2 separate regions of the Homo sapiens genome follow, and region 2 is linked to region 1. Evidence: fine-mapped expression QTL. A gene starts in region 1. The other region holds a variant in brackets. All regions are shown on one strand. Distances are between the middles of the regions.

The links. PIP is the estimated chance that this variant, and not a neighbour inherited with it, causes the effect.
Region 2: its variant is fine-mapped to the expression of PHC1 in skeletal muscle (GTEx, PIP 0.98).

What each region holds. Positions count from the first base shown.
Region 1 is chr12:8,912,988-8,915,896 of GRCh38, reverse strand. It overlaps PHC1 (polyhomeotic homolog 1), which reads right to left and starts at 1,388. Exons shown (of 15, transcript NM_004426.3): 1 at 1,070-1,388. RefSeq lists silencers at 937-1,226, 1,297-1,346, 1,397-1,506.
Region 2 is chr12:8,891,140-8,894,048 of GRCh38, reverse strand. No RefSeq gene overlaps it. Among named protein-coding and RNA genes, the nearest start is that of PHC1, 22 kb to the left of the region's middle. The variant C/A (reference allele first, on the strand shown) is at 1,508.

The DNA of each region.
Region 1 (2,909 bases):
TGACCCCTCGTCTTCCCAAACCTGAATTCTGATTAATAATTTTTTTTGGATTGTGAACTAGAAATAAAAATGTAAAGGGACCAACTTAAAAGTCTCAATAAAATCAAGGGAAACTGCCACCAAAACCAGGATTCCTGGATCCCGGGCACATAAATGTATTCATTTGTGATCAACATTATGACTACAAGATTAAATATAAAAAATGGAGACAACAAACAGTTTGGGCAGCACCAGGTATCAAAATTTTCCAAATTAAACTGGAAGACAGTGAGAAGCTGATCCACAGATGCCCCCAGAGTAGCTAAGCCATGGTCATCTTAAAAGGTAGCATGTGGGCATACATGGGGTTGGGTAGGCGCACAGACCTACCGAAGGGAGTTAGAATGGGACATTGAGGTGGACTTAGCATTGGGCCGAGAGTTGGAGAAAGTCAATATCCCTAAGCACGAAACTCTTATCATGCAGAAAGGATGGGACATAGGAAGGGGGACGGGAGAAGGGGGTGGTTCAGGGAAGACTGTGCCAAAGACACGGTAATAATCAAGAGAACAGGGAGTAGACGCCCAAGGGTCCTCGTTCTATATAGAACCTTGATGAAAATGATGTTTCAAAGAGAAATCAAATACACTGGGGGAAGGGGGTGGATCCAGTGGTGCGCCGGGAATGAACTGACCCAAGTGAGCTGGGACATGTGCATACAGAGAGCAGAGGCAGAAGTCAAGGAACTGGAGGCTGAGGAACCCAGCGGACCACGAAAGCAGGGAGATAACTAGACAGCATGCTCGGCTGGAAGGACCAAAGTCAGAGAAGGAAAAATGAATAAGAAAATGAGCAGTCAGAGGCAGCTAGGGTGACGGACAGACAGCATGAAGCGCAGCAGAATGAATAGCCAGAAGACTCGGACAGGCAGAGCCGAAGGACCGCAGAGCTCAGCGCCGGAGGTAGGCAGGGAAAGCAACTGGGGGAGGTACCTGGGGCGTTACACAGATGGAGGTGGCTGAGGATACATCCCCGCGCAGCCAAGCCCCCAGAGGTCCTGCCCCTCCCCGGCCCTCGGTCGCCCGGTTACCTTCTCGCCTGGCTGTGCACCCAAGTCTTCCCCGGGGGCGTCCACCTCATGTGCCGGGGTCCCCAGTCGCCAGGCTGGGCTGGGGGCTCGCTCGGCCTCCGCGGCGGGCTCCCCTCGCCTCCTCCCCTTCCTGGAGGGGCGGGGGCGCCGAGGGCGGGGTGGGAGGCGCCCGGCGCGACCGCGGCTCCCCGCCCCTCCCGCCGCTCCGGGTGCGGGCCCGGCCGCGGCTCAGCCAGGCCTCCGGGGCTCGCTCCGGGCCTGTCACTTCCTGCCCGGCCGAGAAGGTGGGGGCCGCAGGCCAGGGGCTGCGGGCCGGGCTGGAGGAGGGGGCTGCGGGGAGGTGCTTCCGGGGCAGCCGGACCCCCCCCCCGCCGTCCCTCCGCCTCCCCTCGGCGCCCTCCGCCCCCTCCCTCCCGCGCGTCCCTCGTTTCCTGCCGGCGCCCGTTGCCATGGCGACGCAGCTCCCGGGCCTCTGCGCTCCAGGCCCAGGGGTTTTTTCCTCTCTTGCTCTCTTTCTCCTCTTTTTTACCCCCTTCTTTCTCTCCGAGTTCTGCTCGCCGGTTGGAAGGACGAAACTAAGAAAGTGCTGGCCTCTAGTGGGGAACGCACCTCTCGGAGAGGAGAGGGAGATGGGAGAAGGGAGGGAAGTGACGTGAGACGGGGAGAAAGAAGGTATTTTCTGGAGCTGCTGGGAATAAGGGGTAGAAAGAAAGGATCAAAGGGACCAACAGACAGAGAGGGAGAAAGAGCAAAGCAACGACCCCTAGAGAAACGATAGACTGGGAAAAGAAATGAAGCAAAGGAAAGGAAGGAAAAGGCGAGAAAAACTTTGAGAATGAGAGAAAGGAGAGAGAAGGTTGATTGTTTAATCCCTCACCTCAACTCCAAGAAGGCGGGAAAGAATGCTGCAGAAACAGCTAACCCATTAGGAGTTGACTTCATTTTCAAAGCAGCAACCTAATGTAACTTCCTTTGGATAGCATTTAAGTTTGTCATTTCAGGGATTTGTGTGTGCTTCGATTTCAATATGTATATGAGTTCGAATGACAAAAACGGGAAAAGGCCAGAGTATAACGAGATGTAGAACAATGGGGCTGTCTCTGGGAACACTAAACATTTGATAGGGGAGCCGTTGTCGTTGTATTTATGATATCAACTTACCGGTTTTTAATTACTCTCTCATCGTTCAACATTCAATAAATATTTATAGAGCGTCTACTATGTGCTAAACCGTGGAAGCTTGGATTGCATCAGTGCACGAAACAAAGATAACTGCCTTACTGCCTTCATTAACCTTTACAGAAGGGTCTGGGGGATGCCTCGTGGATTAACAACTGGGATTGATGCCTTTTCTCTTGCTCTCAGTCTTTTCCTAACCTCTATCCTAAACAGTTATTTTCTCTGTCAATCCACTCTTCCTTTTCTCCTTTAAAAGCCCATGCATGGTTTGTTTATAGAGAAAAAAACAGAAGTGTTATCTTTGCTTATAAATTATATCCATTTAGATTTTGCTTTGAGAGAGGAGTATTTGGACTCCAAGGTCTTTCATTTGTGGCAGCCAGATTAAAATCGGAGAACAATTTCTGCCAGGCTTCTAGGAACTAGTCAGACAGGTATGTGAGGGAAGAAACCGGAGGGCAGCCAAAGGACTGGAAAAGCGAAGACACGGGGTATGAGGAGGTGAAAGGGTGTGTTACCAGGCCGTGGATGACAGGCACTGGCTGAGGATGATTTGAAAAGATTCTGACTGGTAGAACTAGTGGTGAAAACGAGGTAAAGCATTCGTTGTTTAATTCACACCTGGATTTTTGGCATGTCAAAGCAGTTAAAGCTTTCTTGC
Region 2 (2,909 bases), 22 kb after region 1:
ACTCCATCTCAATAAATAAATAAATAAATAAAGTAATAATAATTTTAAAATAATTAAAATTTTTAGAAAGGAATTCTGCACTTTGGGTCTTATTTTCCTCATTTTTCAGTTGAAGAGACCTGATTGCATGATTTCTAAAGACATTTCCAATTCTAAGAAATTCTAATTCTATTTTCTGCCAATGATGGGCATTTCTTGAACTTTATCAAGAGTGCAGAAAATAGTCTTCACTCCATCTCCTGAGAACTAAAAAAGGTACAGGGTCTTGTCTCCCTAGGACCACTAACATGAGAGGCTCTCGCTGATGAGGGACTTTAGTCATAGGATGGATTCTTATGCATTTAGGATGGTGACTTCCTCACTTGGAAAGTCTATGTGTACATTCCTATTCAAAATATCTGGAAAGCTGGGCGCAGTGGCTCACGCTTGTAATCCCAGCACTTTGGGAGGCCGAGGCGGGCGGATCATGAGGTCAGGAGATCGAGACCACGGTGAAACCCCATCTCTACTAAAAATACAAAAAATTAGCCGGGCGTGGTGGCGGGTGACTGTAGTCCCAGCTACTTGGGAGGCTGAGGCAGGAGAATGGCGTGAACCCAGGAGGCGGAGCTTGCAGTGAGCCGATATTGCGCCCCTGCACCCCAGACTGGGGGACAGAGTGAGACTCCGTCTCAAAAAAAAAAAAAAAAAAAAAAATCTGGAAAGCAGACCACAAGATGTACAGAACAAATGGCGGAACACAGAAACCAGAAACACGGAGAAAAGTAATCTCGGTTCCAGAGAAGGCATAGGCTATCTCCCCTTACAAGAACAATCCTCCCACACCGCACCCCTCACCTGTCTCATTCCTGCTTATTCTTCATCTTGCAACTTGAGTGTCACTTCTGGGAATTCTTAATTCAGCCCAAAGATTAGGTTAGGTTCCCACAACCTGACTGTGCTTTGTCACATTCATCCCCCTAATGAAGGGCAGGCAGTGTTGCTCTCCCTCACTAAGCTGCAAGCCTGGGAAGGGCAGGGAGTGTGGTTGTCACATTCATCCTGTTCACTACTCAGTGGGTGCCCAACAGATTCGCACTTAATGAAGGCCCCTCTGCTGGCCTTCAGATTTCAGTGCTTATGGAATAATTATTTCTGTCCCCTGCCACTCAGCCCTGTACTCTGCTTTGTGATGGAAAAGAGGAAACCAGGAATAAGAAAATGTGCCCCACAGATTTTGCCAAAACCATAATCTGTTAGATAAATTGCTGAGAGGGAAAACACTAGAATACCTCAAACGGTAATTCCATTCAACACAAAATACGTAAATATACGTACTTTGGGAAAGTACATCACATATCACCACAGAGCAAACGCTGTTGGATCGCCATTATTTAAGGAATATCTCATACTCAGTTTCTGGATTTCTGCAACAACTGGTAAAGGGGAAAATATCACATTTCTTAAATTTATACATGTATAGGCTGGGCACGGTGGCTCACACCTGTAATCCCAGCACTTTGGGAGG[C/A]CGAGAGGGGAGGATCACTTGAGGTCAGGAGTGTGAGACCAGCCTGGCCAACATGGTGAAACCCTGTCTCTACTAAAAATACAAAAAAGTTGTCTGGGCTTGGTGGTGGGAGCCTATAATCCCAACTACTTGGGAGGCTGAGATAGAAGAATCACTTGAACCTGGGAGGCGGAGGTTGCACTGAGCCGAGATCGTGCCACTGCACTCCAGCCTGGGTGACAGAGCAAGACTCTGTCTCAAAAAAAAATAAAAAGATAAAAATAATAATAAAAGAAATTTATACATGTATAGTTGAATAAGCACAGAATATCTCTGAAAAGATATACCAGAAACTGAGAATTAGCCAAGCCCCACCCACACACTTTACTGCCTACATTAGCTTGACTTTGCTATTCTACTGTCTTTACCAACAAGACTTTAGTATTTCAGGAAGCCCTTGCCCCAAAAATAAAAGCTGTAATGGGAATGGGTAATGGGTACAAAAAAATAGAATGAATAAAATGTAGTATTTGATAGCACAACAGAGTGACTCTAATCAATAATAATTTAGTGTGCATTTTAAAATAACTAAAAGTACAATTGTATTATTATTTTTTCTTGAAACAGAGTCTCACTCTGTCACCCAGGCTGGAGTGCAGTGGCTCAGTCTTGGCTCACTGCAACCTCTGCCTCCCAGGTTCAAGCAATTCTCCTGCCTCAGCCTCCTGAGTAGCTGGAATTACAGGCGCCCGCCACCACGCCCGCCTACTTTTTGTATGTTCAGCAGAGATGGGGTTTTGCCATGTTGGCCAGGCTGGTCTCCAACTCCTGACCTCAAGTGATCTACCCACTTCAGCCTCCCAAAAGTCCTGGGATTACAGGCGTGAGCCACTGTACCTGGCCTAATTGTATTGTTTGTAACACAAAGGATAAATGCTTGAGGTCATAGATATCCCATTTACCCGGATGTGATTATTACACATCACACGCCTGTATCAAAACATCTCATGTATCCCATATACCTACTCTGCACTCACAAAATGAAATTTTTAAAAACTTTTTATTTCCATAGGTTATTGGGGCACAGGTGGTATTTGGTTACATGAGTAAGTTCTTTAGTGGTGATTTGTGAGATTTTGGTGCACCCATCACCCGAGCAGTATACACTGAACCCAATTTGTAGTTTTTTATTCCTCTCTCCCTTCCCACCCTTTCCGCCCAAGTCCCCAAAGTCCTTTGTATCATACTTATGCCTTTAATTTTTTTTAACTGAAAAAACTTTTTAAAATAAAACTTTTAAATAATGTTATTGTTCATTTCAGGAATATCCAGACAACGTATTTTAAATTGCTTAGCTTTCCAGTACAGTTATCAAATGATTATTCATGCTCCAAAACTTTTTTAAGCCCTCACCTTGCTAAAT